4 linked regions of the Homo sapiens genome follow. The protein of the gene in region 1 purifies or fractionates together with the protein of each later gene. This does not show direct contact. Each region holds a gene or a part of one and is shown in the gene's direction. Other genes may lie near its edges.

Region 1 (8,200 bases):
TGAGCTTCAGTTGAACCAACTCAAAGCGGGGGTAAATAGTAGCAGGTCTTTGGTAGAATTGTTGACAAGTACATATGAGATGATGTCAGTAAATCTCCATCCCAGCCATGTAGTAGCTTAAGTATTATTATTGCAGTTTTTCTCTCATTAGCAAATTAAGACTGGACGTGGAAGCTCATGCCTGTAATCCCAGCAATTTGGGAAACTGAGGCGGGAAGATCACTTGAGGCCGGGAGTTGGAGACCAGCTTGGGCAATACAGGGAGACCCTGTCTCTACCAAAATAAAAAATAAAAAATAAAAAAAACAAATTAATTGGACAAATATCTGTTGAAATAATGGTGGCAACAAGAGGATTGGGGAGGCTTTAGGCTTCTCCCATATCCTCAATATCCTTCTTTTTTTTTTTTTTTTTTTTTTTTTTTGAGACAGAATTTTGCTCTTGTTGCCCAGGCTGGAGTGCAATTTTGCGATCTGAGCTCACTGCAACCTCTGCCTCCCGGGTTCAAGTGATTCTCCTGACTCAGCCTCCCGAGTAGCTGGGATTACAGGTGTGCGCCACCACACCTGGCTAATTTTGTATTTTTAGTAGAGACAGGGTTTCTCCATGTTGGTTAGGCTACTCTCAAACTCCTGAGCTCAGGTGATCCGCCTGCCTCGGCCTCCCAGAGTGCTGGGATTCCAGGCGTGAGCCACCACACCTGGCTTTTTTTTTTTTTTTTTTTTTTTGAGACAGAGTCGCCCAGGCTGGAGTGCAATGGTGTGATATCCAGTCACTGCAACCTCCACCTCCTGGGTTCAAGTGATTCTCCTGCCTCAGCCTGCTGAGTAGCTGGGATTACAACTGCTTGCCACCATGCCCAGCTAATTTTTGTATTTTTTGTAGAGACGGGTTTCACTATGTTGGCAAGGCTGGTCTCAAACTCCGGACCTCAGGTGATCCACCTGCTTCGGCCTCGCAGAGTGCTGGGATTATAGGTGTGAGCCACCACGCCTGGCCCAATATCCCCATTTCTTGATAAAGAACCATGGCAACACAGGGTCAAAACCCCTCTTCCCCTCATCATTCTAATAGATTGATGCTGTAGGGAGGAAGAAATATTTTTTCTTCTTAGATTCATGGCTGAAGCCCCTATAACAAAAACCCTTATAAGAAAAGAAGCCACGTGCTGGGTGCGGTGGCCACGCCTGTAATCCCAGCACTTTGGGAGGCGGAGGCGCGATCATGACTCACTGCAACAGCTGCCTCCTGGTTCAAGCAATTCGCCTGCCTTAGCCTCCCAAGTAGCTGGGATTACAGGTGCCCGCTACCACACCCAGCTAATTTTTGTATTTTCAGTAGAGATGGGGTTTCACCATGTTGGCCAGGCTGGTTACGAACTCCTGACCTCAAGTGATCTGCCCATCTTGGTCCCCCAAAGTGCTGGGATTACAGGTATGAGCCACTGTGCCCGGCCTATAAGTTTATTTTTTTATGTTTATTTATTTTTATGTATTATTTTGAGACAGAGTCTCACTCTGTCACCCAGGCTAGAGTACAGTGGCACAATCTCAGGTCACTGCAACCTCTGCCTCCTGGCCTCAAGCAATTCTCCTGCCTCAGCCTCCCAAGTAGCTGGGATTACAGGTGCATGCCACCACGCCCAGCTAGTTTTTTGTATTTTTAGTAGAGACAGGGTTTCGCCATGTTGGCCAGGCTGGTCTTGAACTCCTGACCTCAAGCGATCTGCCCGCCTTGGCCTCCCAAAGTGCTGGGATTACAGGTGTGAGCCACCATGCCCGGCCAAATATTTTTTGTAGAGATTAGAGTCTCACTACATTATCTGGGCTGGTCTTGAACTCCTGGCTACAAACAGTCCTTTGCCTTGACCATTCAAAGTGCTCATGTTACAAGCATGAGCCACTGTGCCAGCCCCCATGTGTTTTTTGTTTGTTTGTTTGTTTTTTCTGGAGATGGAGTCTTGCTTAGTCTCCCAGGCTGGAGTGCGGTGGCGCGATCTCGGCTCACTGCAAGCTCCGCCTCCTGGGTTCATGCCATTCTCCTGCCTCAGCCTCCGGAGTAGCTGGGACTACAGGCACCCGCCATTACGCCCAGCTAATTTTTTTGTACTTTTACTAGAGACGGGGTTTCATCGTGTTAGCCAGGATGGTCTCGATCTCCTGACCTCGTGATTCGCCCATCTCGGCCTTCCAAAGTGCTGGGATTACAGGCGTGAGCCACCGCACCCGGCCTCTTTTTTTTTGAAACCGAGTTTCGCTCTTGTTGCCCAGGCTGGAGTGCAATGGCGCAATCTCGGCTCACAGCAACCTCTGCCTCCTGGGTTCAAGCGATTCTCCTGCCTCAGCCTCCCGAGTAGCTGGGATGACAGGCATGCGCCACCATGCCCGGCTAATTTTGTATTTTTGGTAGAGACGGGGTTTCTCCATGTTGGTCAGGCTGGTCTTGAACTCCCGACCTCAGGTGATCCGCCTGCCTCAGCCTCCCAAAGTGCTGGCATTACAGGTGTGAGCCACCATGCCCAGCTAAAGTTCTAGCTTTTTAATGAATGTCGTAATTTTTTTTTTTTTTTTTGATGTGGAATCTCGCTCTGTCACCTAGGCTGGAGTGCAGTGGCTCGATCTTGGCTCACTGCAACCTCTGCTGCCCGGGTTTAAGCTATTCTCCTGCCTCAGCCTCCCCAGCAGCTGGGACTACAGGTGCCTGCCACCACGCCTGGTAATTTTTGTACTTTTAGTAGAGACGGGGTTTCACCTTGTTGGTCAGGCTGGTCTTGAACTCCTGACTTCAGGTGGTCCACCTGCCTCAGCCTCCCAAAGGGCTGGGATTACAGGCGTGAGCCACCGCACCCAGCCCCATATTTATTTTTTCGTCTTTTCTTTTTTTTTTTCTTTTTTGAGAAGGAGTCTCACTCTTTGACCAAGGCTGGAGTGCAGTGGCACTGTGTTGGCTTACTGCAACCTCTGTCTTCTGGGTTCAAGCACTTCTCCTGCTGCAGCCTCCCGAGTAGCTGGGATTACAGGTGCCCATCACCACACCTGGCTAGTTTTTATATTTTTAGTAGAGACGGGGTTTCACCATGTTGGCCAGGCCGGTCTCGAACTCCTGACCTAAGGTGATCCACCCGTCTCGGCCTCCCAAAGTGCTGGGACTACAGGCGTGAGTCACCACGCCTGCCCCTTTTTTTCTTTTTTGAGACACAATCTCGCTCTGTCACCCGGGCTGGAGTACTGTGGTGCAATCTCGGCTCACTGCAACCTTTGCTTCCTGGGTTCAAGCGATTCTCCTGCCTCAGCCTCCCAAGTAGCTGGGACTTCAGGTGCATGCCACCATGCCGGGCTAATTTTTGTATTTGTTGTAGAGACAGGGTTTCACCATATTGGCCAGGGTGGTCTTGAACTCCCGATCTCAAGTGATTGACCTGCTTTGGCCTCCCAAAGTGCTGGGGTTACAGGCGCAAGCCACCAGGCCTGGCCTGTTCTTTTTTTTTTTTTTTTTTTTTTTTTTTTTTGTGGAGACAGAGTCTCGCTCTGTCACTCAGGCTGGAGTGTAGTGGTGCGATCTCGGCTCACTGCAAGCTTCACCTCCCGGGTGCACACCATTCTCCTGCCTCAGTTCCCGAGTAGCTGGGACTACAGGTGACCGCCACCACGCCCGGCTAATTTTTTGTATTTTTAGCAGAGACAGGGTTTCACTGTGTTCGCCAGGATGGTGTCAATCTCCTGACCTGGTGATCCACACGCCTTGGCCTCCCAAAGTGCTGGGATTACAGGCGTGAGCCACTGCGCCCGGCTGTGGCCTGTTCTTTTTTATTTTAAATTGTTTTCATCTATTTATTTTCTTAATAATGGAGATGGGGTCTCTCTGTGTTGCCCAGGGTGGTCTCGAACTCCTGGGCTCTAGTGATCCTTCCGCCTGGGCCTTCCAAAGTGTTTGGATTATAGGTCATCAAGTTTCATTTTATGCCACTAAACCACTATGCTGTGCACCGTGGCTCATGCCTATAATCTTAGCACTTTTGTTTTGTTTTTGAGACGGTGTCTCGCTCTGTCGCCTTGGCTGGAGTACAGTGGTGCAATCTTAGCTCACCGCAACCTCCGTCTTCCGGGTTCAAGCGATTCTCCTGCCTCAGCCTCTTGAGTAGCTGGGATTACAGGAATATACCACCACGCCCGGCTAATTTTTGTATTTTTAGTAGAGACGGGGTTTCACCACCTTGGCCAGGCTGGTCTCGAACTCCTGACCTCAAATGATCCACCTGGGTTGGCCTTCCAAAGTGCTGAGATGACAAGCGTGAGCCATCGCGCCTGTTTTTTTTTTTTTAACCTTTTTTTTTTTTTTTTAACACAGCCTTGCTCTGTCATCCAGGCTGGAGTGCAGTGGCACAATCTTGGCTCACTGCTACCTCTGTCTCCCAGATTCAAGCTATTCTCCTGTCTCTGCCTTCCAAGCAGCTGGGAATACAGGCACGTGCCATCATACCTGGCTAATTTTTGTGTTTTTAGGAGAGATGGGGTTTCACCATGTTGGCGAGGCTGGTCTTGAACTCCTGACCTCAGATGACCTGCCTGCCTCGGCGTCCCCAAGTGCTGGGATTACAGGCGTAGTCACTGCGCCCAGTCAGCAGAGCCCTGCTGATGGACGTTTGGTTTCCCGGTCTTGCTGTGGCACGCCACATAGCAAGGGATCCCTTTGTATATTTTAGGATTTTATTTTGTGTAACAGGATAGGATTTTAAGCTGGGGAGAGGCAGGATCAAAGGCACATTCTGTAAAGCTCCTTCTGGCTGCTGTATAAACAGACCGGGAAAGTCACGTGGGAGTTAGCAAGACGGGGGATGGGGGGATGCTCTTGGGGAAGTCCAACTTGTCCCCATGTGACGGCAGGCTTTCCCCAAGCATTGCGGGCTTTCCCAGTGATGTTGCCCCCATCTCACCATCAGGCTCGGACATCATCATGCAGCTGGACGACGTGGTTAGCAGTACTGTGACTGGGCCACGTGTGGAGGAGGCCATGTACAGGTGTGTATATGCTGTGTGCATGTGTGGGATATGTGGTGGGAGGGGATCCTGGTCCCTGTAGCCTTGTCTCCTACCCCCTCACCAGGCCCCTGGGGCTTGTGACTGGGGCCCTGTTGCAGGTCAATCCGCTGGCTGGACCGGTGCATTGCAGCCCATCAGCGGCCGGACAAGCAGAACCTCTTCGCCATTATCCAGGGTGGGCTGGACGCAGATCTCCGGGCCACCTGCCTTGAAGGTAGAGCCATGCGCTGGCAGGCCCAGGGCTTGGCCATCGCGGAGGTCCCCACATGGGCCTGGCGTATGGCGGGACTGGATTGCTAATGTGTAGAAGGGCACTGCGCTAGAAAAAATAGCCGGAGCAAAGGCTCTCGGGCCACGTGCAGTAGAATGTATTGAGAGAATGGCCATGATTCCAGTAGTTAATGATCTTCTAGGTTTTTTGTTTGTTTGTTTTTGTTTTTTTTTTTGAGACGGAGTCTCAGGTGATCCACCCCCCTTGGCCTCCCAAAGTGCTGGGATTATAGTCATGAGCCACCGCGCCCAGCCTATTTATGTATTTATTTATTTTACTTTTTTTTTTTTTGGAGGGTGGAGTCTTGCACTGTCGCCCAGGCTGGAGTGCTGTGGCGCGATCTCGGCTCACTGCAACCTCTGCCTCCCTGCAACCTCCGCCTCCCGGGTTCAATCTATTCTCCTGCCTCAGCCTCCTGAGTAGCTGGGACTACAGGCACCCGCCACCAGGCCCGGCTAATTTTTGTATTTTTAGTAGAGACAGGGTTTCACCATTTTGGCCAGGCTGGTTTCAAACTCCTGACCTTGTGATCTGCCTGCCTCGGCCTCCCAAAGTGCTGGGATTACAGGCGTGAGCCACCGTACCTGGCCTCTTTATTTATTTTTGAGACACGGTCTTACTCTGTTGCTCCTCCTGGAGTGCAGTGGCTAGGTCAAAGCTCACTGCAGCCTCAAACTCCTGGGATCAAGCAGTCCTGCTTCAGCTTTCCAAAGTGCTTGGAATATAGGTGCACGCCGGTGTGTCCAGCCATGCATTACCTTTTACATGCAATGCTTTCTGGTGTTTTCTTTTCTCTTTCATTTAAAAACAACGACAACAACCCGTGCGTCATCAAAGTCATTTCTCAACCACCTGCAGTTTGACAAGCACCGCCCCATGGGGTGCTTCTCAAAGTGCTCTGAGGCTTACCTGCCCCAGCACAAACTACTGAAAGTCCTGGTAAAATGCAGCTCCCCTTCCCATGATCCGACCAGAGTTGGAGCTAGGGAAGGCCTAGGAATCTGCATGTAAACACCCTGTGTCCAGTTGGAGGATGCTCACATTACCTTCAAAACCTGGCCCCAGACAACGCCTGCATTCCTTTTTTTTTTTTTCTTTTTTTTTTTTTTTGAGACGGAGTTTCGCTCTTGTTGCCCAGGCTGGAGTGCAGTGGCGTGATCTCAGGTCACTGCAACCTCCACCTTCCGGTTTCAAGTGATTCTCCTGCCTCAGCCTCCTGAGTAGCTGAGATTACAGGCATGCACCACCATGCCTGGCTAATTTTTGTATTTTTAGTAGGGACAGGGTTTCACCATGTTGGCTAGGCTGGTCTTGAACTCCTGACCTCGTGATCCACCCCCACCTTGGCCTCCAGAGTGCTGGGATTACAGGCTTGAGCCACTGCACCTGGCCAACACCTGCGTTCTTGATGGCATGGCCTCTTCGGGTTGAACTGGGCAGCTGGGGCACAAGATAAGCCTGGACTTGGAGGCCAGACCCAGGTTTGAATCCAGCCTTTGGCATATGTAGCCTTGGACTAGTGGTTTAAGCTCTGCAAGCCTCAATTTCCTCTTGTTTCAGGCAAGTTGAACAATAGCACAATTCTGCAGCCCCTTCTGTGTCATCCAGGTCCTCAGAGCGAAAGTCTAAAATCCAGAACATTGGCCGGGTACCATAGCTCACACCTGAATCCCAGCACTTTAGGAGGCCAAGGCAAGAGGATTGCTTGAGACCAGTCTGGGTGACATAGTGAGATCCCATCTCTAAAAAAAGAGAATTGGGCCAGGCACGCTGGCTCACGCCTGTAATCCCAGTACTTTGTGAGGCCAAGGCGGGCAGATCACGTGGTCAGGAGTTCGAGACCAGCCTGGCCAACATGGTAAAACCCCGTTTCTACTAAAAATACAAAAATTAGGCCGGGCGTGGTGGCTCGCGCCTGTAATCCCAGCACTTTGGGAGGCTGAGGCGGGCAAATCATTGAGGTCGGGAGATCGAGACCAACCTGGCTAACACGGTGAAACCCCATCTCTACTAAAAAATAGAAAAAATTAGCTGGGCGTGGTGGCGGGCGCCTGTAGTCTCAGCTACTCGGGAGGCCGAGGCAGGAGAATGGCGTGAACCTGGGAGACAGAGCTTGCAGTGAGCCGAGATTGTGCCACTGCACTCCAGCCTGGGCAACAAAGTGAGACTCCATCTCAAAAAAAAAAAAATTAGCCAGGCATGGTGGTGGGCACCTGTAATCTTAGCTACTCGGGAGGCTGAGGCAGGAGAATCATTTGAACCCGGGAGGTGGAGGTTACAGTGAGCTGAGATCACACCACTGCACTCCAGCCTGGGCGACAGAGCAAGAATCTGTCTCAAAAAAAAAGAAAAAAAGAAAATTAGCACGCAAGCATGGGAGTGTGTGCCTGTGATCCTAGATACTTGGGAGGCTGAGGTGGGAGGATCGCTTGAGCCCAGGGGTTGGTGGCTGCAGTGAGCTATGATGACATCACTGTACTGCAGTCTGGGTAACACAGTGAGACCCTGTCTCAAAAAAAAAGAAGAAAAGAAAAGAGAAAAAACTTAGAATGCCCTGAAAAATTTGCAACTCATTTCATGGCTAACTTAGATCTCTCATTTTTTATCCCAGTTGTTACAAGTATTCACATATTTTTATTTTTATTTATTTTTTATTTTTTTGAGATGGAGTTTTGCTCTTGTTGTCCAGGCTGGAGTGCAGTGGCACCATCTCGGCTCACTGCAACCTCTGCCTTCTGGTTTCAAGCGATTCTCCTGCTTCAGCCTCCCGAGTAGCTGGGATTACAGGCACCAGCCACCACGCCTGGCCAATTTTTGTATTTTTAGTAGGGATGGGGTTTCACCATGTTGGCCAGGCTGGTCTCGAACTCCTGACCTCGTGATCCACCTG
Region 2 (8,200 bases), on another chromosome or scaffold:
TGTTTACTTTGTGTACTAGAGCTTAATGTATCACTAATGCTTTCTGTATTTAACCTATCTCGGAGTGTTTGAAGTAACTGGAATGAAATACTTATTAAATCTCACCTCAGAACAAAAAAATAAAATAAAATTGAATCTGATTTTTCACTAAAACTTCTAGTACTTACTGGACATCTATAGAGGCCCCCCCCCCCTAAAATGTCTTAGGATGTAGGACAGATTAGTGCTCAAAATTGTTGCCAGTATTTCTTCATACCCAAAGTTTGTCACTCTCACTTATTTAGATTATACCAGTATTACTAGGATCACAGATAATTGAGCTAAAAACATGGACTTTAAAATCAAAGCGACCTGGTTCGAATCTCTACTCAGCTGTGCTATCTTGGGCAACTTAATCTCTCTGAGTCTGTTATATCTTTAAAATGAAGGTACTACCTCAAAGGAGTTTTCTGAAGGATTAAATGAGATAATATATCTGAAGGACTTAGCACAGTATCTAGCCTGTAGTAAATGCTCAATACCTGGTTATTACTATGATTCCCATATGGAATGGTAAAGTTCAACAGGAGCAATTAACTATCCAATGACTGAAGATAATGCCCTGCCTTTTTCTGGCTGACATACAAATACATGATTTCAAGGAAGCACCACTCAAAGTTCATGTCCTCCTAATGATGGGATAGCAGTATCATTCTTCATACATGGAAGGACAGCATACCTTTGTGAAAATTATCAGTGAAAATGCACATAGTGCAAATTGTGTAACCTTCATGCTTTTATAACACCAATCTTTTCCAACTCTATGCAACAGGCAGTTTTTCCAGTTTCATATTTTCTATTAAGCAACTAACAACATGTTCAAGTTTATTTTAATTACCAGGGATTTTAAGAGTATAGTATTTCCTAGGATGTTGACATGGACAAGTGATTGTTTTTTAAGATGATTAAAGTTAGCTACCTTCACGTTATTGTACTTGCATATATTTTTACCTTATAGATTCAGAATAATTCCAGTACATTCTTAATTCAGTAAACAATTTGATTGAAGCCAACACACGGAGGCACTGTTCCAGTCACAGATTCAGCAGCAAATGAGACAAACTCTCTGCCTTGTGAAGCTTATATTCTACTGGGAGCATAGACAGTAAACATGAAAAATAAAACATGGTATATTAGTAAAAGTACTCAGGAAAAAAATAACGCAAGTAAGGGATAGAAAGTGTGGGGAGTACAATTTTAAAAGAAGTTGGCTGGAGAAATGCCTCACTGAGAAGGTGTTCTTTGAGTAAAGAAAAAAAAAGAGGCAAGAGAATAAGCTACGTAGATGTCTTGGAAGAACATTCCAGGCAGAGAGAACCTCAAGTACAAAGGCCATGGGGCAGGAACAAATGGGACTGCAGAAGAATGTTCCAGGGAAAGCGTACTAGGAGGTGAAGTCAGAACCTTGGGGTAGGGGAAAGACTATATAGTCTTGTAGGTTGTAGTAAGGACTTCAGCTTATATTCTGGGTGAGTCATATGGGAATTCTTTGAAAGATTTTGAGCAGAGGAATGGTATGATCTAACTTACATTTTGAGAATAGTACTCTGGCTTCTGAGTTTAGAATTTATTGTAGGGGTATGAGATGGAAGCAGGGAGACTAGATTGGCTATCCCATTTATCCACATGAGAGATGATATTGGCTTAAACCAGGATGGTAACAGTGGAGGTGGTAAGAAGTAGTTGAATTAGATTCACCTTTTTTGTAAGTCAAACCATTAGGATTTGCTGGTGAATTGCCTGTGGAATGTGTGAGAAAGAGAGGGGGGTAAAAGGGTGAATCTAAGGTTTTTGGTCAAAGCAAGTGGAATATATAGAGATGGGCAAGACTGGGTGAGATAGGATTGTGGAAGGATGATCTCAGTTTTGAACATGCTAAGTTTGAGGTATTTAACTGACACCTAAGTGGATCTGTTGAGGAAACAGTTGGATATACAAATCTAGTGTTTAAGGCAGACTTCCAGGCTTGAAGGAAAAATTTGGAAGTCATCACGACATATATGTGGTATTTAAAATTGTGAGGTTCAAGGACCAAGCCCCATACCATTTAGAGGCCAGGAATGTGAGGAAGAAGCAGAAAAAAAAAAAAAGACTGAAAAGGAATAGCCAGGGAAGTAGGAAGAAAACCTGAAGAATATGGTTTCCTGGAAGCTAAGTGAAGAAGTTTAAAGCAGAAGAGGGCTCAGCTGTGTTAAAGGCTGCCAGTGGGTCAAGGAAGAAGAGAACTGAGCTTTAATTGACCTTTGGATCTAATAGCATGGAAGTCATTGGAGACCCTGATGAGGAGAACAAGTTTATAGAGTGGTAGGAGACATAAGCCTGATTGTAGTGGGTTCAAGAGAAAATAGGAGAGAACTGGGAGACAGAGAGCCATAGACACCTCTTTCAAGGAGTGCCAAAGAGATAGAAAATAAATGGGCTATAGCTGAAAAGAAGATGCAAAGGAGGGAATGTTTTTTAAGATGAAAGAAATAACAGCTGGTTATGATGCTGAAGGGAATAGTTCAGAAGAGCAGGGAAAATTAATGAGGAAGGACGAGAGGGAAGAATTGGTAGAGTAGCACTTCCGTGTCCTTATAAAGACAGGGTGTAATGCATAAATGAAGGGGTTGGCCTCAGCTTGGAGCATCAACAGTTCATCCATAGTCACAGGAGAGAAAACAGCATGTGGCCACAGATTTGATTAGGTGGGTAGATGTAGCAGTGAGAGTCTGTGGAAATTATCTTTGGATTGTTGCTGTTTTGTCTGCAAAATAGGTCAGCTGCTGAGAATAAGTCTGGATGAGGAATGTTGGTGGTCTGAAGAGAGTAAAGTATGAAATCCAGAGGAGTGGGCCAGTGAGTGGACTAGTGCGGTGTGGTCTCTCTGCATCAGGGAGAGTCCATTTGAGGTAGCAATCACAAGTTTAAAGTGAGACACTCAACACAGTCATGTGTTTCTCACAGCAAATTCAGCTGCATAGGTACAGGTACAGATTAGGTGGAGAATTGGATAGGATAGAACCAGGCTGTGGTTGAGATGATTAAGTACAACCAAGTGAGACAACCAAGAGGGACTGAGTATGATTGCCTATGGAATTTAAGAGGAAGAAGACAAAGGTTTCTCACAAAAGCACTATAAAGTAGGTAATATAAGCAGTATTCCTGTTTTACAGATGAAGCCACTAATATAGAGCTTTCTTTTTTAAATCATACTTTAAATTCTGGGATACATGTGCAGAACGTGCAGGTTTGTTACATAGGTATACACGTGCCATGGTGGTTTGCTGCACCCATCAACCCATCATCTACGTTAGGTATTTCTCCTAATGCTATCCCTCCCCTAGCCCTCCATCCCCTGACAGGCCCCTGTGTGTGATGTAACCCTCCCTGTGTCCATGTTTTCTCATTGTTCAACTTCCACTTGTGAGTAAGAACATGCAGTGTTAAGTTTTCTGTTCCTGTGTTAGTTTGCTGAGAATGATGGTTTCCAGCTTCATCCATCTCCATGCAAAGGACATGAACTCATTGTTTTTTATGGCTGCATAGAACCACATTTTAAACCCAGATCTGTTAGCCTAGAAAATTTTTGTTGTTTCTCTTATGAGACATTATATTTTGCCTAATGATGGGTACGATGCTCAGCATCATACCCTTACCACCAACTCTTCTTTTTTTGAAGTGAAATGAAATGTTTAAATCTTTTTTGAAATGAATTTATCAATAGACTGAGTATAACCCCTGACAAGGAAGTATTATAGTTTAAGATGATAGGCAAAACTGGGCAGAGGCTGGCTAGTGTACTTGAAAGAGCACTGGGTGCTCGATTTGTGCTCTGCCATTCATTTGCTTCTCTGTAAGATGAGGGCTCAGACAATATCAGTGGTTCAAATATTCAGCTGAACTGGAAGTTCCAAGGAGTCCCTTCAGGGGCTGTCATAGCCTCCTCTACCAGAGCAGCTATGCTTTTTGCTTTCATCTACGCTTGTGTTTTTATATCTATATAAGATTTTATTCAAATGGATGACCCATGACCCCCTCACTACCTGCAGAAAGAATTTGAAAACCTCTAGACTAAATGATCTCTCTGGTTTCTTCTCACCTGAATGTTCTTTGAGCCTTGCCTACTGTGTGTGTGTGTGTGTGTGTGTGTGTGTGCATGCGTGTGTGTGTGTCTGTACTAAGCACTATGAGGATTACCTAGAAAGCATTTCTCTTTCTCTAAGACTTAAGGCAAATATGTATAAAAGATTAAATTTATGTAACATCAATAACTAAAAAACATACAATGCATTTTAAATCCAACTAAAGTACAGGCTCTTCAAAAGCTATTTTCTGTTTCTTTATATATTTTCAGCCTTAAGCCTGAAGATTTCTCAATTGAGGGTAAGGTGGTACTCACCCCTTAGGGGCATTTTATAAATCTGAAGACATGCTTTTATGTCTGCTAATATTGTCTCTGAGAATGTATGTATTGAAACAAGTATTTTGTTAAATTTTAAATTAGTTTCTTTATGGTACTCTTTTATATTACCAGTAAGAAATCATTTTTTAAAATGGTGTGTTGGTAGATTATGACTATCCTTTGATGTTGATGAAGAGGTATCACAAAATATTTGTCATAAGAAAGAGGTACTGGGTTTGATATGGTTGAGAACTACTGGTCCGTGTTCTATACTGTGGTACCCAGAAGTTTGGAAGTGATGGTAGTATAATCATGTATCAGATTGAGTGGTAGATATTGCTAATGATGTGTGAAATTAGAAAAAGTAAAGATTGTTCTGGACTTGGGTAGCCATGAAATCTTCAGTGGGAGGAGAGGATTGTTAGAGGGGATCTTACATTCAGCATTATGATAAACCCTTGACATGACATACCTTATCTTGAAGAAATGAATGACCAGACTTGTCCGAGAGACTAAGAAGGTACTTTCCAAGTAGGGTAAGTCATAGAATTTAAAGCTGGAAAGGCCCTAAGAATCACCTAGGCCAGACATTTTTAGTTCAGGGTTGTTGCCCTTTGAAGTTCATGGATGGATTTCAAGGAACTTGTGAATCACTTGACATTGTGTGTATCATTTAGCATGTCTTTCTGAGGGGAATTGGGTTCCTCGTTCTCATTCTCAAAAAGGCCCATCATCTCTAAGAGGTTAAGGCCTGCTGATCTAGTGTGGTCCCAGACTGAGGTAGATGGTTTGCTCAAGGTTACACAGCCAGTTAGGGGCAGAGATGAGGATTGACACCCAGTGACTTCCAGTTTCTTTCTCATTTCACTGTACTCAACTAAATTACATGAACAAAGGCACAGGCAGGATTAAGCTACCATTTTATATTAGATGGTATAAAAACAATCAACTAGCCTGGGGTCAATTGAATTAAGTCTGTCAGTCTGTTTCTACAAAAGTTGCAGAAGGATGGGCTTCAGTTTGTCTCTTCAAAGTGAACTAATATTTTGATTTTTCTGGTTGAAATATGCTACAACTCACCGAAGTAGCTTTCTCAGTTGAAGGTAAGCTCCTTAAAAAATGTTCCTATTCTTGGGCCGGGTGTGGTGGCCCCCGCCTGTAATCCCAGCACTTTGGGAGGCCATTGAGGGCAGATAGCTTGAGTCCAGGATTTTGAGAACAGCCTGAGCAACAATGGCAAAACCCCGTCTCTACAAAAAATGGAAAAAAACTAGCCAGGCATGGTGATGCACATCTGTGTTCCCAGCTACTCGGGAGGCTGAGGTGGGAGGATCTTTTGAGTCCGGGAGGCAGAGGTTGCAGTGAGCTGAGATCATGCCACTGCACTCTGGCCCGTGTGACAAAGTGAGACCTTGTCTCAAAAAAAAAAAAAAAAAAAAAAGAAAGAAAAGAAATATTACTATTCTTGAGCCTGTTTCTGCGGTTTCTTTCCAATGGCACTGTTTTTCTAACCTGCAGCAGCCCCCAGCTTTCCACATAATCCAATCAAAATTACTTTGCCTGATTTGTTAGATTTTGTAACTACCGTAGCGTATTTAGTCAAGCGTATTTAGCGTATTTAGTGTATGCTGTGCCCCAGTCAGACTAGTGTCCTTGCTATTGGTACTTCCTATTCTCCCAAAGTCCTTTCATTCCCACCTTCGTATCTTTTTTCATATGGTCCCTGAGCCTGGAATACCTTCCATTCCTCTTTCATTTCTAGATGCCCAACATAAGGTCCAGCTTAAATCTAATCTCCACAAAGCCTCTCCTAGTTACTCTTGGCCATTTTGCACTTCCTCTGAACTCCTTTTGCATTTATTGCTTATACTACTGCCTACACTGCACATGGTAGTTATGTATTAGTTATGTATTACCACAAGGCTTTTCAGTGGAAATGCTTTAGTGGTCACCTTGGGAGTTGGGATTCCGGGAATTCTGGGGCAGGACTCTGGACATCCCCAAACCCTGTTTTGGCCAGAGCAACTCCACTTTAGTGTTATATATGGGCAGTTTCCAGTAGTGTTTATTAGAAGAGATGGTTTAATTGCACCCCCTGTCCCCGTTCCCCCAAACAGTTGCAAAAATACTGGATCTATCTTGTGTGATAGTTGACTCATAAGTGTTAACTTATAATGGCCAAGGGCCAGGAATTAATACTACTTCAGACTTGTATTACCACTCCTAGGCAACTGGTGCAGTTTTGAGCACAAAGTGGACATGTAGGAAATGATTTTACAATTGTATTGCTCCCATGTGGGAAATAGTAGATAGTAAATAGCATTACCTGAGAAATTTACCTTAATGAAGAACTCAGAATAAGGTTTCTGGGTTGACCTTTGAGAAATAAATCTAAGTTGATAGTTTCTGCCCCACCCCCCCCTTTGGATATAAACCTAACACTATTTAAAGATGTCTAGTTTACATGCACATGTTTAAGAGAAATCTTATTATTGGCATACCCTATTCTACCAAAGTTTTGACAAACTTAAATATCATATTCATGCATTTGTGTAAGCATTAAGGTTGTTATTCAACTCACAGAATGATATGCAGAGTACCAGTACACCTAGAAACCTAGAAAAAAATAAATTCAGAAGTTGATGTGCTCAAAGACATTTACGTCAATAATGATTACAAATGGAAAATGCCAGCCTTTCAGACCAGTTATTTCAGCTTTCTGTAATTAATTGTGTAAACTAATAAAGACCTGAGTATTTAAATCAATTGTGCTATCAACTTGTTAATATTCTTTTGTTTTTGTTTTTTGTTTTTTGTTTTTATTTTTCCTGCTCTCTGCTTGGTTCATTGTCATCACCTACAGGCGTACTTTATTGTCGGCTTCCAAAGATTACTAACTTTTATCTGTATCACTAAGATTGAACTGCCTTGGCTGTACTGCTATTCTTACTGCTGCTTCTATTATTGCCTTCTTCAGCACAATAAGGCTTTCAAAAGCCAAAGAATAACAAGAAATAAGCACCATTTTAGAAGCCTTTCCACTATGAAACTTAAGCTAAATGTGCTCACCATTATTTTGCTGCCTGTCCACTTGTTAATAACAATATACAGTGCCCTTATATTTATTCCATGGTATTTTCTTACCAATGCCAAGAAGAAAAACGCTATGGCAAAGAGAATAAAAGCTAAGCCCACTTCAGACAAACCTGGAAGTCCATATCGCTCTGTCACACACTTCGACTCACTAGCTGTAATAGACATCCCTGGAGCAGATACTCTGGATAAATTATTTGACCATGCTGTATCCAAGTTTGGGAAGAAGGACAGCCTTGGGACCAGGGAAATCCTAAGTGAAGAAAATGAAATGCAGCCAAATGGAAAAGTTTTTAAGAAGGTAAAGTATTTTGGTGCTTTTCATTTATGTTTTAAAGAGGAAGACACATTTGTTTTATCATAAATCGAGTGCGTTTTAAGTATGCTGGCATTCTATTATAGTGCTGTGTAAAACTACTCAGAAGCCGCTCATAGCTTCTGTATGTTCATTTAAGAGCATTTTTAGAGTTTTATGCTTTGGATAGTATTTTAATTGCTTGTTTGAATATACTAATATTAGAGAATGTATCACTTTAACAGTTAATTCTTGGGAATTATAAATGGATGAACTATCTTGAAGTGAATCGCAGAGTGAATAACTTTGGTAGTGGACTCACTGCACTGGGACTAAAACCAAAGAACACCATTGCCATCTTCTGTGAGACCAGGGCCGAATGGATGATT
Region 3 (7,139 bases), on another chromosome or scaffold:
GCATGAGGATGCGTGGGGTCAAGTGTTGGGGTGGGGGGCAGGGCACGCACCACCTTCCTGGCACCTCGATCTGCTCACCAACCCAGAAGTTGTCTGTAAATAAAATGTTATTGGAACATAGCCATGCCTACTTGTTTACATGTTGCTATGGCTCCTTTCTTTCTTTTTTTGATTTTGTGTAGAGATGGGGTCTCACCGTGTTGCCCAGGCTGGTCTGGAACTCCTGGGCTCAACTGATCCTCCTGCCGTAGCCTCCCAGAGTGCTGGGATTACAGTTGTGACCCACTGTGCCCGGCCAACGGCTAGTTTTATACTAAGAAGACAGTTGAGTAGCTGTGACAAAAACCCTATCAGCCACAAGGCCGAGAATATTTACTCTCTGGCCCTTTGCAAAAAGTGTTTGCTGACCTTTGGTCTAGCGGTTCAATGTCTAATTGTTTAGAGGTTGAGGTGGGGCAGGAGGGTGGGGCCCAGAGATAATCCAAGTTAGAGTTAGGGGAAGGTCACTTTCCTAAGGGTAGGGAGGAGAGAGAGCTGACCTATGACCCAGAGTAGAGTATCATCTCAAGGCATCCCTCACGTCCTCGCCCACGTCACTGTGTGGCAAGTCTGCCAGGTGCCTGGCTCCCCCTCCCTGCCCGAGAGAACTTTGTGTTTGCTGGAATGATAAGCGGTATGGCGTGGGCACTGGGAGGGGGGACATTGCTGGTGGGGGAAGCCATGAGGCTGGGCAGCAGAGGCTTGAGAGAACAGGGAAGCGGATGGGGGTGAGGATGCAGAGAGGTCAGGCTGGGAGCCCTGGAGCCAGGCTGTGGGCAGAAGGGGAGGAGAGGAGGGAGGTGCTGGACTTCCAGTGGGTGCTTGGAGGCGGTTGGAGGCGGACCATGTGTCACACCCTGCTGGACCAGACTCGGTGGTAAACAGACCTGTTAAAACCCTCTGGATGGACCAGGCGCGGTGGCTCACGCTGATCCCACGTCCTGATCCCAGCACTGGGAGGCCGAGGTGGGTGGATCACCTGAGGTCAGGAGTTCGAGACCAGCCTGACCAACATGGTGAAACTCCATCTCTATCTCTACTAAAATTACAAAAAAAAAAAAAAAATAGCTGGACGTGGTGGTGTGCACCTGTAAATCTCAGCTACTCAGGAGACTGAGGCAAGAGAATCGCTAGAACCCGGGAGGCAGAAGTTGCAGTGAGCCAAGATCATGCCATTACACTCCGGCCTGGGGGACAGGGCGAGAATCTGCCTCAAAACCCTAGAAGTTTGTACTGCAGTGGGAAGATGAGAGTCCAGCCAGCAGGGACAGAATAATGTAGCCAGTATCTGCTGGAAGAGGGGACATCTCCCAAAGTGCCGTGGGGGGCAGGTGGTGGCTAAAGGTTTCCTGGGAGTAGTGATGTGTCCCAGCTGAGCCCTGAAGGATGCTGGGTGTGGCAGGGGTTGCATTGGGGAACTGTTTGTATCCACTGCAGCTCAGGGGATAGATCAGGGTACAAAAGTAGGGGACACTGAGGAGCGAGGTGGGGACTAGTCATTGGATCAAGGGGTCTGCACTGGGTAGGGCGTCATGTGGATGGGTTTTGTTTTAGCCAAGAGGTGAAGGATGGACAGGAGGGAGACCAACAGGGAGACCTGTCAGGCTGATGTCAGGGGCCAGGTGGGGTGTGGTGGGCTTGTGTGACGCAGCGGCAGGCATGCGGAGGAAGCACCCAGCATCTGAGTTTTGCAGTGGGAAGAGTGGGTCTGGACTGGGGGTGCCTCTCAGAACTGTGCTGCTGGCTGGACTGGGAGGCAGGCAGGTACCTGGTGTCCAAGCATCACCTCTCACCCACCATACTTTGTTAAATCCCTGCACCCATCTCTCCCCAACCTGCCCAGCTCTGCTGGGCTTAGTATTTGGGGCAAGCCCCTCTAGGGAAGAGAGGGGCTGGTTTGGCCCCAATGCTGAACTTCAACTTGGCCCTTGTCAGGAGCTGTGAGAGTGGTGCCTCCAGGCTCCTGGGCTCTACCTCTGCTGTTTTTTGGATTTCTGGTGAATCACCTAGGAATCAGTCTGCAGATCCTGGGGGGACGAAGTCATTTAGGGTCCAGTCCCTGCCTCCCACTCCCCTAATGATGAAAGAAACTGGAAGTTGCCCAATCTTGATCTCCCCGAGACACCAGAAGGTGGACCCTCAGCAAAGAGCCTGGGGCTCCACAGTGGAGACGTCACAGGCGGGATCCTCATTTATGGGATACCAAGCGAAGGCTGAAAGGCTGGGGAGCTGGTTCTGTGGGTCCCAGCAGCCCCACCCCAGTTCTGATTCAGAAAGAGGACTGTGCCGCCCACGCAGGGGGAGGAGCTGGTCAGCCTCTGTCTCCCTGAGCCCGTCCTGTCCTTTCCCTTCTCTCTCTGAGGACCAGGACTCAGGGTGGGGTGTCCACTAACTCCACAGGGATCGAGGTTAGACAGCAGGAAGAACTTACAGCACATCTCCAGGCTGACTGTTCATAGGAGCCAACTCATAGACTCCATCTCTTCCCTGGCTTGCTGCCTGGAATTGCTGGATTTACCTTCGCGTCCTTAAATGTGGTCATGTTTACTCTGGCAGCATCCTGGCTTGCAGGGGCAGGGGAGGCATTGTCTTCTGCAAGAAAGGTTCTGTCTCTCTCAAGTTTCAGGGAAAGTGTGTCCGAGGCTACTGGAACTCTAACCAGATTTGCAAAATCACTCCTCTACTCTGAATGCCTGCGGATGAAGAAACAGGCAGGGTTATACCATGGATTGCTGGCTTATTTCACAGCATTTAACTTTGGTAGGAGCGCTGGGGTTTAAATGACAGTCCCCTGGCAAAGAGGCTTTTGTGCCGTGTGGCCAGCCCGCGTTAATCCTTTGCCTCTCATTCTCTGCTTGCAGCCTTATGATCTCCTCATTGCGTCCCCCTCTGCCCACTGGACTTGGACTTCAGATCTGACCCCAGACCTGCCGGCTACCTCGGGAGGGCCCACCTCCCCGCCCATCCAGCAAGATGCCAATCCTCAAGCAACTGGTGTCCAGCTCGGTGCACTCCAAGCGCCGTTCCCGAGCGGACCTCACGGCCGAGATGATCAGCGCCCCGCTGGGCGACTTCCGCCACACCATGCACGTTGGCCGGGCCGGAGACGCCTTTGGGGACACCTCCTTCCTCAATAGCAAGGCTGGCGAGCCCGACGGCGAGTCCTTGGACGAACAGCCCTCTTCTTCATCTTCCAAACGCAGTCTCCTGTCCAGGAAGTTCCGGGGCAGCAAGCGGTCACAGTCGGTGACCAGGGGGGAGCGGGAGCAGCGTGACATGCTGGGCTCCCTGCGGGACTCGGCCCTGTTTGTCAAGAATGCCATGTCCCTGCCCCAGCTCAATGAGAAGGAGGCCGCGGAGAAGGGCACCAGTAAGCTGCCCAAGAGCCTGTCATCCAGCCCCGTGAAGAAGGCCAATGACGGGGAGGGCGGCGATGAGGAGGCGGGCACGGAGGAGGCAGTGCCCCGTCGGAATGGGGCCGCGGGTCCACATTCCCCTGACCCCCTCCTCGATGAGCAGGCCTTTGGGGATCTGACAGATCTGCCTGTCGTGCCCAAGGCCACGTACGGGCTGAAGCATGCGGAGTCCATCATGTCCTTCCACATCGACCTGGGGCCCTCCATGCTGGGTGACGTCCTCAGCATCATGGACAAGGAGGAGTGGGACCCCGAGGAGGGGGAGGGTGGTTACCATGGCGATGAGGGCGCCGCTGGCACCATCACCCAGGCTCCCCCGTACGCCGTGGCGGCCCCTCCCCTGGCAAGGCAGGAAGGCAAGGCTGGCCCAGACTTGCCCTCCCTCCCCTCCCATGCTCTGGAGGATGAGGGGTGGGCAGCAGCGGCCCCCAGCCCCGGCTCAGCCCGCAGCATGGGCAGCCACACCACACGGGACAGCAGCTCCCTCTCCAGCTGCACCTCAGGCATCCTGGAGGAGCGCAGCCCTGCCTTCCGGGGGCCGGACAGGGCCCGGGCTGCTGTCTCAAGACAGCCAGACAAGGAGTTCTCCTTCATGGATGAGGAGGAGGAGGATGAAATCCGTGTGTGAGGCGGACAGTGGGTGGCCACCGGGAGCTCTTGGCTGCATCTTCTCCCTGCCCCCACCCCACTATGACCTTTGACCCTACGGCGCAGGGGCAGCCAGGACCCTTGATTCAGACCATGGACCCTGGACCTTGTAGATGAGGGACACTGGCCTGGCCCTCGGGTCTTCGGAGGACGTAGGGGGCTGGCATGGGTGCCGACTGGCTGCCTGACTTCATCATGCTCCCTGCACTTAGGCTGCGTGGGACAAGGGCTGTGTTGTCACAGCAGGAATAGGTTTTCCTCTGTTGGCCTCCCTTTCCTCCACCCTGGCCTCAAATGGATGCCAGATGCCAACCCCAGTTCTGGCCACGTACAGCCAGCGGGTCAGCCCAGAGGCAGCCTCAGCTCCAGGGCTAAGGACTCTCGGCTCCCATTTTCTCTGCTGGCGTTTCTGCTGTGCCCAGCAGTGGCTGCTGGGGAAGCAGCTGCAGCAGGAGGGAGACGGTCTTGCCTCTCAGCCCCTCCCTGCCCCACCCCAGCTCCTGCCCTGGAAATCTGGAGCCCCTTGGAGCTGAGCTGGACGGGGGGCCAGCTGCGAGCATGTGCACTAAACGCAGCCCTTTCCAGGGGAAGAGAACAGGATGGAGAATGGAAGGAAAGCCCCCCAGGCTTCGTGAATTGCAAGAAGGGACCCTTCCAGGATGACACTAGGAACAGGGCTAGGGCACTCGCTCAGTCCCTAGGGGCTTGTTTGTTCTTTATTATTGTGTTTAAATCCTTATAGAGCAATATCAGGATGGTGTTAATAGGTCTGCCTCAGAATGAGAATCAATCCTTTTAGAAAACCTTTATACTAAGCCTCCTCTTCAAAATTCACAGTGGCGATTAGCGGACTGGAGTCTGGTGGCGATTAGCGGACTGGAGTCTGGGGACATCCGTGGCAAAGACACCAGCTCAACTTTAGTGCTTCCCAACTTTATTTAGAATGACATGGGGTGGGTGTCTGGTGTGTGTGTTTTCCCTACGCACCTCCCATAGCTATTAACAACTGAGGAAGGCCAGTGCAGAATATTTTTGGAGAACGATTTTTTTTTTAAATAATATATCATTCCTATGGGGGGAAAGCCTTTTTTTTCTTTTTGGCTGAGTTATTCCCTCCCTCCCCTCAATACCCTCAGTACTGACTACTTCCCTTTCTTTTCTCAGGCCTCCCCCCACCGACTTTTGAGGCCAGGGTTGGCCAGATTTAGCAAAACCAAAACAGAGTGCTGAGTTAAACGCAAATTTCAGGTAAACAAAAGATAATTTTCTAGCATTAATATGCCCCACGCAATATTTGGAACACTTATGTGAAAAATGATTTGTTTTTCTGAAATTCACGTTTCTCTCTGAGTCCTGTAACTGTCCCCGAGGGGATTGAGCAGAAGCTCGGGTATGAGCCCTGAGGTTGACTGCCGGTTATTTTTCTGTCCTGGGAACAGCCTGACCCACCTCCCTGTCTCCATGTAGCCAGTGAGGGGAGGGGGAGACACAGAACCAACCACAGCCAGGGGCGTCCCCATGGCGACTGTGGCCCGGCCCCTCCTCTCTTGCCTGACTCTCCTCTCTTGCCTGACTCTAGACACTAACTTAGTTCCAGGTTCGGTGCCCTGTTGGTGCTCCTGTTTCCAATAGCTTAGGTCCCATGGTGGGGGAGGAACCTCAGGGGCTATGCAGCCCCCGCCAGCTGCCCTCGAATCCCGTCCAGGCCAATTCCAGATTCTAAACTGATTTTTTTCATGATATTGTCAAAACAGTGAGGAAACATTAAAAAAAAAGCCCTAAAGCACGCCTGGTGTCTGTCTCTGCTTTTTGGGAGGGCTATTTCAGGATGGGGGTGGGGTCTGGACCCAGGTCCTAGAGCTGTCCAGGGGGGCCTGAGGTGGCTTCTGTCTCTCTGTCCGTGAGGACCCGCCCTTCCTGCGATGCTGTCTGCCTGGGCAGGCCCCTTCAGAGTCTGGGGACTCAGGTGTCCCTAACTGCCATCTCTTGGAAGCCCTTGGCACTTGGTCGCTTAGCTGTTCTGTGCCTCCCTCTCCTGCTCTGTAAAATGGGTATCCTGCCACTCTTAGAGGGTTGAGGCACAGAAACAGTGACATGGGCTTTTTGTGGGGGAGGGGGTTGGTTTTTTGTTTTTTTTTGTTTTTTTTTTTTGTTGTTGTTGTTTTGTTTTTTTTGAGATGGAGTCTCACTCTGTCGCCCAGGTTGGAGTGCAGGGGTGTGATCTCAGCTCACTGCAACCTCCGCTTCCTAGGTGCAAGCGATTCTCCTGCCTCAGCCTCCCAACTAGCTAGGATTACAGGCGTGCGCCACTACACCCAGCTAATTTTTGTATTTTTAGTAGATACTGGGTTTCACCATGTTGGCCAGGTTGGTCTCCAACTCCTGACCTCAAGTGATCCGCCCACCTTGGCTTCCCAAAATGCTGGGATTACAGGTGTGAGCCACCGTGCCGGTCGACATGGGCTTTTTATACAGTTGTGATTAGGATGAGAGTGACTGTGTTCTCCCCAGCCCCCTGGTGTCCTGGTGCACGGAACTGTCACCACCAGAAAGTGGCTGGCCCTGAAGGCAGTTTCTGCATGATGCTGGGAGCGGGGCTACCACCTCCTCTTTCCCCTTTTACCGTTAAGCCTGGAAAATCAGCTTACAAGTGGCAGGTCCTCAGTTCAACCTCACTTCTCAGGGAGATAGAAGCTCCACATCCCCATTTTCCAGATGGAGAAAGATGATCAGATAAGCCTCGAGGCCGCCTTCTCTAATGCCCAGAATTCATTCAAAACTCCTGCCCTTCTCACCCCACCACTCCTGGGCACATCAAAACCTCGGGATATAAAGTCAGGGGGTGAGGGTCTAGTGGCCCCTGAACCCACTGCCCTGCCCCTGCCCTACCACCTCCTTCCCTTGAATCATGTTCCCCTCTTTCTGGACAGCTTCAGAAGGGAGCCCTGGTCTGCGTAGGGCTGGCTCACTGCTTGTTGAAGCCCCCGCTTGCTCTCAGGAAATCTGGGGAAATCTTGGGGATCTCAATGTGGCTGA
Region 4 (8,200 bases), on another chromosome or scaffold:
TGAGCCAGCGTGCCCTGCCCTAGGATATACTTTTTATTTGGTTGTAAAAAGTATGTGGTAGTTAAAAAAATAGATTTGGGACTTAATTCTGAGTTAGGTTACTGGCCCTGCCATCTACTAGCCTAATGATTTTATGCAAGTTTTAACTCTGAGCCTCTGTTTCCTCATCTACCAAATGGACATGTTTGAGGCTACTTGCCTCATAGAGTTGTAAGAACTTGAGGTGATGTATGAAGCTCTTAGTGTAGTACTGGAGACAAGGTCAAGTGCTTGCAGTCTCTGAAATCCTTGGTGAAACAGGCACCCTTTACCACGGTGTCAGTGCTAATGGAAATGATAGGCTGGAGTTTGAGAATGTAGCTGAACCTCCATTGCCTGTGTCAGTGCTAATGGAAATGATAGGGTGGAAGTGGAGAAGGTAGCTGTATCTCCATTGCTTGTATCTGGTATTGTTATCCTCATGCTGCTTTGTCACATCCTCCTCGCTTGTACTTTCTTCAGTCTCAAGATATCTATGCCTCTATGACTTTTATAGTGAGGTATAGTTTACGAAGTCACTTCCATACATATCTTATTTGACATGACACGATAGCTTAAAATGGAGGTGGGGAACAGGTTAGGTGAAGGTCCTACAGATATTATTGGCAACAGTACTTTCTTTCTTTTTATTTTATTTATTTTTTGAGACAGAGTCTCACTCTGTCACCCATGCTGGAGTGCAGTGGCACGATCTCAGCTCACTGAAAACTCTGCCTCCCGGGTTCAAGCGATTCTCTTGCCTCAGCTTCTCTAGTAGCTGGGACTACAGGCATGCACCACCACACCCGGCAAATTTTTGTATTTTTAGTAGAGATGGGGTTTCATCATGTTGGCCAGGCTGGTCTCAAACTGACCTAAGGGTATCTGCCCACCTTGGCCTCCCATCGTGCTGAGATTACAGGCATAAGCCACCGTGCCTGGCCTCTTTTTTTTTTTTTTTTTTTTTTTTTTTAAATTTTTTTGAGACAGGGTCTTGCTCTGTTGCCCAGGCTGGAGTGCAGTGGCATGATCTTGGCTCATTTGGCCTCGTGGGCCCAAACTGTCCTCCCACCTCAGCCTCTTGAGTAGCTGGGACCATAGGCTTGCACCACCACACCCGGCTAATTTTTTTTTTTTTTTTTTGGTAGAGATGGGTTTTCACCATGTTGCCCAGGCCGGCCTTAAAATACGGGGCTCAAGTGATCCTTCTGCATTAGCCTCCTGAGTAGCTAGCATCACAGGCACCTGCTATTACTCCTGGCTATTTATTTATTATTTATTTTGAGACAGAGTCTCGCTCTTTCGCCCAAGCTAGAGTGCGGTGGCGTGATCTCGGCTCACTATAAGCTCCGCCTCCCAGGTTCAAGTTATTCTCCTGCCTCAGCCTCCCACGTAGCTGGGATTACAGGCATGTGTCACCATGCTTGGCTACTTTTTGTATTTTTTGTAGAGATGAGGTTTCGCCATGTTGGCCAGGAGGGCCTCAAACTCCAGACCTCAGGTGAACCACCTGCCTTGACCCCCCAAAGTGCTGGGATTACAGGCGTGAGCCACCGCGCCTAGCCAAAAAGAAAAAGTTGAAAGGATATATATTTGCCCTTATTTATGAAAGACTTGAAAGAAATTCACGAAAGTATAAAAAAGTCAGTGCCAGTGGGATTGTGGGTAACAATTTTTTTTTCTTTTTTTCTTTTTTTTGGAGATAGCCTTGCTTTGTCTCCCAGGCTGGAGTGCAGTGGTGTAATCATAGCTCACAGTAGCCTCAAACATCTGGGCTCAGGGGATCCTCCATCTCAGCATCCCCAGTAGCTGTGGCTACAGTTGCATGCCACCACGCCTGGCCAAATTTTAAAATGTTTTGTAGAGGTGGGGGTCTTTCTGTGTTGCCCAGGCTGGTCTTGAACTCCTGTCCTCAAGTGACCCTCCCACCTCAGCCTCCCAAAGTGTTGGGATTATAGATGAGAGTCACCAGGCCCAGTCCTAACTTTTTTTTTTTCTTTTTTTTTTTTTTTTTTGAGACAGAGTCACACTCTGTGGCGCAGGCTGGAGTGCAGTGATGCAGTCCCAGCCCACTGCAGCCTCGACATCCTGGGCTAAAGCAATCGTCCCACTTCAGCCTCCTGAATAGCTAGGATGCCACCACAACTGGCTAATTTTTTTTTTTTTTTTTGCTAGAGATGGGGTTTCTCTGTTGCCTAGGGTGGTTTCAAACTCCTGGGCTCAAGCAGTCTGCCTGCCTCAGTCTCCCAAAATGTTGGGATTATAGGCGAGAGCCACCTCGCCTGGCCCCTCACCCTTTTTTTTTCTATCAAATGTTACTGAATATAGCTTTTTACATTTAATGTTGTATCATGATTACTTTCCCTTGTTAGGAAATGATAATGTGAAAATGGCTCTCATATCAGATCTAGTTTGAAGCCCCAGCTTTATTAGCTATAGTCTGCTTGGCCTCAGGTAGTCATTTCTCCTCTGAACTGGTGTCTTCATCGCTACCGTGGGGCTGCTTCTCTTAACCACACTGAGCTGAGCGAGGGTCAGAAATCATAGGTAAAGCCCTTGGCACATAACCTAGTTCTTGGAAGACTCTGAAAACTGGGAGTTGTGATGCTGTTGTTATTATCATTATTATTATTATTACTATTTTTGTTTTGTTTTGTTTTTTGCGATAAAGTCTTGCTCTTGTCCCCCAGGCTGGAGTGCAATGGTGCAATCTCCGCTTACTGCAACCTCTGCCTCCCAGGTTCAGGCGATTCTCCTGCCTCAGCCTCCCAAGTAGCTGGGATTAACAGATGCCTGCCAGCAAGCCTGGCTTATTTTTGTACTTTTAGTAGAGACGGGGTTTCACCATGTTGGCCAGGCTGGTCTCAAACTCCTGACCTCAGGTGATCCGTCCGCCGCGGCCTCCCAAAGTGCTGGGATTACAGGCGTAATCCAGCCTTATTATTATTATTTTTGAGACAGTCTTGCTCTGTTTCCCAGACTGGAGTGCAGTGGTACAACCCGGCTCCCTGCAGCCTCTGCCTCCTCGGTTCAAGCACTTCTGCCTCAGCCTACCAAGTAGCTGGGATTACAGGCACACACCACCACACCTGGCTAATTTTTGTATTTAGTAGATATGGGGTTTCACCATGTTGGCCAGGCTGATCTTGAACTCTTTCTATTTATTTATTTTTTTATTTATTTAATTTTTTTTTTTTTTTGAGATGGAGTCTCGCTGTCGCCCAGGCTGGAGTGCAGTGGCGTGATCTCGGCTCACTGCAGGCTCCGCCCCCTGGGGTTCACGCCATTCTCCTGCCTCAGCCTCCCGAGTAGCTGGGACTACAGGCGCGTGCCACCTCGCCCAGCTAATTTTTTGTGTTTTTAGTACAGATGAGGTTTCACCGTGTTAGCCAGGATGGTCTCAATCTCCTGACCTTGTGATCTGCCTGCCTCGGCCTCCCAAAGTGCCGGGATTACAGGTGTGAGCCACCGCGCCCGGCCTTGATCTCGAACTCTTGACCTCAGGTGATCTGCCTGCTTTGGCCTCCCAAAGTGCTGGGATTACTGCCATGAGCCATCGTGCCCAGCCGATGCTGTTTTTATTGTTTAAAATAGTCTTCAAAAACCTGTTTTTCATGGCATTGTATCATCAAATGAAATGATGATGCAAAGGTTTAAAAAAAAGGAATGTACTATTTATGTTGGGGGGGGAACTGCTATCAGGTTGCAATCGAAACATTTTCTGGAAAAAAAAAACAAAACAACAAGAAAACCTGTATTGTGGTGGCCTAAGTATAAATGAAAGCCTAGCAGGTTTCCATTCTGCTGCAAAGCAGCTTCATGCTGGACCAATTAGAAAAGACATACTTTTAAAATTAAAACTTTATTGAAATGTAATATACATGGCTAAAAATTACTCATTATAAGCAAACAACTCAGCGCATTTCCAGAACGTAGACACACTCATGCAGCCCGCAGGAAATGAGGCAGAACCATTACCAAGCCCCTCCAGAAGCACCCTAAGCCTCACCTTCCCTCAAGTCCCAGGAAAGCCCCTTTCTCCTGAGAGTGGTCACTGTCTTCACCTCCGTCACCACAGATGATTTCCCCCTGCATTCCAGTTTGTTTTACATGAATATGGCTGTGATTCATATACGTTGTTTTATGTGGCAGAAATTGTGTGTTCATTTTCCCTCATCCTCTCCCTCTGCAGTCCTGCTCCACTGAGGATTCTGCCAGAGAATGAAGCCCTAATGTGCTAAGGCATCCATTTATGTAGTTGAGTTAATGTCTCCTGTGCCTCTAGGAGGGTAGTCATCATATACTGTCCTTGAGAGAATTGAGAAAATAGATACTGAAGACATTTTCCGTGGGTTTAATTCTCTCAGAGAATTCCAAGAAAGGCTGGGAGCCTTAGCTTTTCTGGCTTTTACCATTGACCCACTCTTGTAGATTCCAGGAGATGACCTCTGTTATCTTATCTGGCTTTTCTAATTGTTCTCTGTGAGAATGTTGGTTTGCTGCAAGCCACTCCAGCCCACCAGGAAGTGGAAATCCAGCAAACATGTTTTCACCACATAGCCAAGCTCCTAAGAAAATAAGGGAAATTCCCAGGGGCCCAAAAAAGGGAAGAAGGAGCTGAAACTCCATTGGGGAAAGAACAGGGAAGCCAGGGCTTCCCTGTGACGTTGCAGAAACTTGAAGCCCAGAGGCCTGGGTTTTTTGTTTGTTTTGTTTGTTTGTTGTTGTTGTTTTTGAGACAGAGTCTCACTGTGTCACCCAGGCTGGAGTGCCATGGCACGATCTCGGCTCACTGCAACCTCTGCTTCCCGGGTTCAAGTGATTCTCCTGCCTCAGCCTCCCAAGTAGCTGGGATTACAGGCATGTGCCACAATGCCCGGCTAATTTTTTTGTATTTTTAGTAGAGACAGGGTTTCCCATTTTGGCCAGGCTGGTCTCGAACTCCTGACCCCAAGTGATCCTCCTGCCTCGGCCTCCCAAAGTGCTGGGATTACAGGCGTGAGCCACCACGCCCGGCCGAGTCCTGGGTTTTTAACAGATGTTGAGGGGAAACAGGGACCATAGCCTTAGGCCTGAGCAGGGAGGTGAGTTGGAACTGTGTCCCTCTGCTTCTCAGCCCATAATCTAGGGCTGTCAAAAAGCTATGAATGCAAGAGTGGGCAGGAAAGAAAATCCTGCTAGTGATAGTGCAGTGTGGTGTAGTTCTGTGGGGGAGAGGAGGGGATTTAGTTTATGCTGTTTCTGCCAAAGATCTGCTCCACAGCCTGTCCTCACAGGCCTTTGGTGTTTGCCATTAGACTACCCGGGATGTCCAGGAAACCCCAAATCTAGAAATAAAAAGTTACCCTTCACACCAAGAATCAAATTGCAGACTTACGGAAGGTGTTGCAATTTAGCCAAATCTCAATATAAAAATTGTTACACAACATAAAGTGTGTTTGTGGAAGCCCAGTTTTAGAAGTGTTCACTGACACCATTGCTCTGTTGGCCCTGCAGTGTACTGACTTAGTTGAGATTGGAGTCAGGATGTTGAGACAGCATCAAGCAGGTGGGGTAGGCGTCTGCCCATGTGATTCAGTCTCACCAAACCTTAGGATTATCTTGTATCCAAAAGACTCTGTCTCCATGTCGCTAATTCCTATTCCTGGGATTCCTCTTGCATAAGGCTTTGTTCCCTGAAAACCCATCATCTACTGTATCACTTTTAGGTGAAAATTCACCTTTTTAAATAATTGACTTATAGCTTAGCTTCATTCTTTATCCTGCCAATGGGAGGAGCCAGGTACACACAAATTGATAAGAGGATTTATATAAATGAGTGTATTCTTGGAACAGCTTCAGCCGCTCCTTTTCTTCCTCCCCACCCCCCAGCATGTTTTGAGTGCCTACTAGATGCCAGGCATTGTACTATCAGGAAGGATGTGGGGATGACGATAACATGGTTCCTCCTGCCCTGGAATTCACATTTCAGCCAACCACTGAGTTTGCCCCTAGAACCCATACCAATGCATTGGAGTGAATTTGAATCCATTGAATACTTCCTTCTGCAGAAACTGTTGATATCTTTTGGATTTCCGATGAGTTGTCTTCAGCTTTTGGAGAAAGACATGTTACCACAGCTGTGTATGTTACTGAGCATATGGAAACATTGGCTGGCTAGCAAGAAATAAGATATCATAGTTTTTCTCTTCTTTTCTTTTACCTTTTTTTTTTTTTTTTTTTTTGAGACAGAGTCTTGCTCCGTCACCCAAGCTAGAGTGCAGTGGCATGATCTCGGCTCACTGCAACCTCCACCTCCCAGGTTCAAGCAATTCTGCTGGCTCAGCTTCCCAAGTAGCTGGGATTACAGGTGCCCGCCACCATGCCCGGCTAACTTTTTGTATTTTTAGTAGAGACAGGGTTTCGCCATGTTGGCCAGTGTGGTCTCAAACTCCTGACCTCAGGTGATCCACCCGCCTCAGTCTCCCAAAGTGGTGGGATTACAGGCTTGAGCCACCGTGCCCAGCCTGATATCATACTTTTTAAAGCAAATGAATAGGTTAAATAATCAAAAGCACTTTTCCATATGACTAATTCCACCACTACAAATCTCTTTAGGATGATGTGAGGCATAAAGTTCATCTGAACACCTTTGGCTTCTTCAAGGATGGGTACATGGTGGTGAATGTCAGTAGCCTCTCACTGAATGAGCCTGAAGACAAGGATGTGACTGTAAGTACCTTTTAATGAGATCCAGGGGTTTACTCTTTTTTTTTTTTTTTTGAGATGGAGTCTTGCTCTGTCACCCAGGCTGGAGTGCGGTGGCGCAATCTCAGCTCACTGCAACCTCCACCTCCCGGGTTCAAGCAGTTCTCTGCCTCAGCCTCCCGAGTAGCTGGGATTACAGGCACCCACCACCATGACCGTCTAATTTTTGTATTTTTAGTAGAGACGGGGTTTCACCAACTTGGCCAGGCTGGTCTTGAATTCCTGACCTCGTGATCCACCCGCCTTGGCCTCCCAAAGTGCTGGGATTACAGGTGTGAGCCACTGCGCCCAGCCCAGGGGTTTACTCTTTTAGCTTAGGTGAGAGTCACCTTCCAACCCCAATGCTTAAATATAAAATACCAGAATATGGAGATAATTAAGCATGTGAGTAGCAAATTATATATCAGGCATCAAATAATTTCACTTTTAACACTTAAAATGTAATTCTGTAATAATTCTAGTAATTAGTGACTTTGCTTGAGTGATTTTACTTTGCCTTCTTACAAAATGAATGCTAAGAAAACAGAGGAGACCACGTTAGAAGTACCACTTTTTCTGCTTTTTGAGTAAGAAAAGTATGGACAATTGTGTAGATATTTACTTCTACTGTTTTTACTCCCCATTAGATTGGATTTAGCCTAGACCGTACAAAGAATGATGGCTTTTCTTCTTACCTGGTGAGTATTAAATGTGTGACCTGATTCATCTCTTCACCTGAGCCCAGGCCATTGAACGGGAACACCCTACTTCTTGCAGTTCCATTTTCATTTTTTTTTTGGAGTACGGTGGCACAATCATAGCTCACTGCAACCTTGACCTCCCAGGCTTAAGCGATCCTCCCGCCTCAGTCCCCTGAGTAGCTGGGACTACCAGCGTGTGCCACCACGCCTGCCTAATTTTTGTATTTTTAGTAGAGACAGGGTTTCACATTTTGTTGGCCATGTCTCAAACTCCTGGACTCAAGGGATCCACCCACTGTGGCCTCCCAGAGTGCTAGGACTGCAGGCGTGAGCACCACGCCTGGCCACAGCGCCATTTCTTGAGGTAGTGGCTGCTTTGACTTCCAAGCATTTTTGAGAACCCACAGTTGGTTTACTTTTGTTTTTTGTTTTTTTTTTTGAGACAGAGTCTCACTCTTGTTGCCGAGGCTGGAGTGCAATGGTGTGATCTTGGCTCACTGCAACCTCCGCCTCCCTCGTTCAAGTGATTCTTCTGCCTCATCCTCCTGAGTAGCTGGGACTGCAGGTGCCCGCCACCACACCTGGCTAATTTTTGTATTTTTAGTAGAGACGTGGTTTCACCATGTTGGCCAGGATGGTCTCGATCTCCTGACCTCACGATCCACCCACCTCGGCCTCCCAAAGTGCTGGGATTACAGGCGTGAGCCACCACGCCCACCGGTTTACTATTTTGAATGGAGTTTGAGCCACGTATT

The links.
Region 2: the proteins of QTRT1 (region 1) and ACSL4 purify together in Homo sapiens (affinity purification with mass spectrometry; one large-scale study listed by BioGRID and IntAct). This does not show direct contact.
Region 3: the proteins of QTRT1 (region 1) and CDC42EP4 purify together in Homo sapiens (affinity purification with mass spectrometry; one large-scale study listed by BioGRID and IntAct). This does not show direct contact.
Region 4: the proteins of QTRT1 (region 1) and GPR107 purify together in Homo sapiens (affinity purification with mass spectrometry; one large-scale study listed by BioGRID and IntAct). This does not show direct contact.

What each region holds. Positions count from the first base shown.
Region 1 is NC_000019.10:10,702,363-10,710,562, forward strand, and holds part of QTRT1 (queuine tRNA-ribosyltransferase catalytic subunit 1), read left to right. Parts: intron 1-4,939; coding exon 4,940-5,018; intron 5,019-5,137; coding exon 5,138-5,253; intron 5,254-8,200.
Region 2 is NC_000023.11:109,682,753-109,690,952, reverse strand, and holds part of ACSL4 (long-chain-fatty-acid--CoA ligase 4), read left to right. Parts: intron 1-5,508; exon of another isoform or gene 5,509-5,526; intron 5,527-7,286; exon of another isoform or gene 7,287-7,466; coding exon of another isoform or gene 7,467-7,589; coding exon 7,590-7,817; intron 7,818-8,056; coding exon 8,057-8,200. UniProt on the Homo sapiens protein: Catalyzes the conversion of long-chain fatty acids to their active form acyl-CoA for both synthesis of cellular lipids, and degradation via beta-oxidation. Preferentially activates arachidonate and eicosapentaenoate as substrates.
Region 3 is NC_000017.11:73,282,374-73,289,512, reverse strand, and holds the end of CDC42EP4 (cdc42 effector protein 4), read left to right. Parts: intron 1-2,900; 5' UTR 2,901-3,012; coding exon 3,013-4,083; 3' UTR 4,084-5,889; downstream 5,890-7,139. UniProt on the Homo sapiens protein: Probably involved in the organization of the actin cytoskeleton. May act downstream of CDC42 to induce actin filament assembly leading to cell shape changes. Induces pseudopodia formation, when overexpressed in fibroblasts.
Region 4 is NC_000009.12:130,069,021-130,077,220, forward strand, and holds part of GPR107 (protein GPR107 isoform 3 precursor), read left to right. Parts: intron 1-6,615; coding exon 6,616-6,729; intron 6,730-7,391; coding exon 7,392-7,442; intron 7,443-8,200. UniProt on the Homo sapiens protein: Has been proposed to act as a receptor for neuronostatin, a peptide derived from the somatostatin/SST precursor.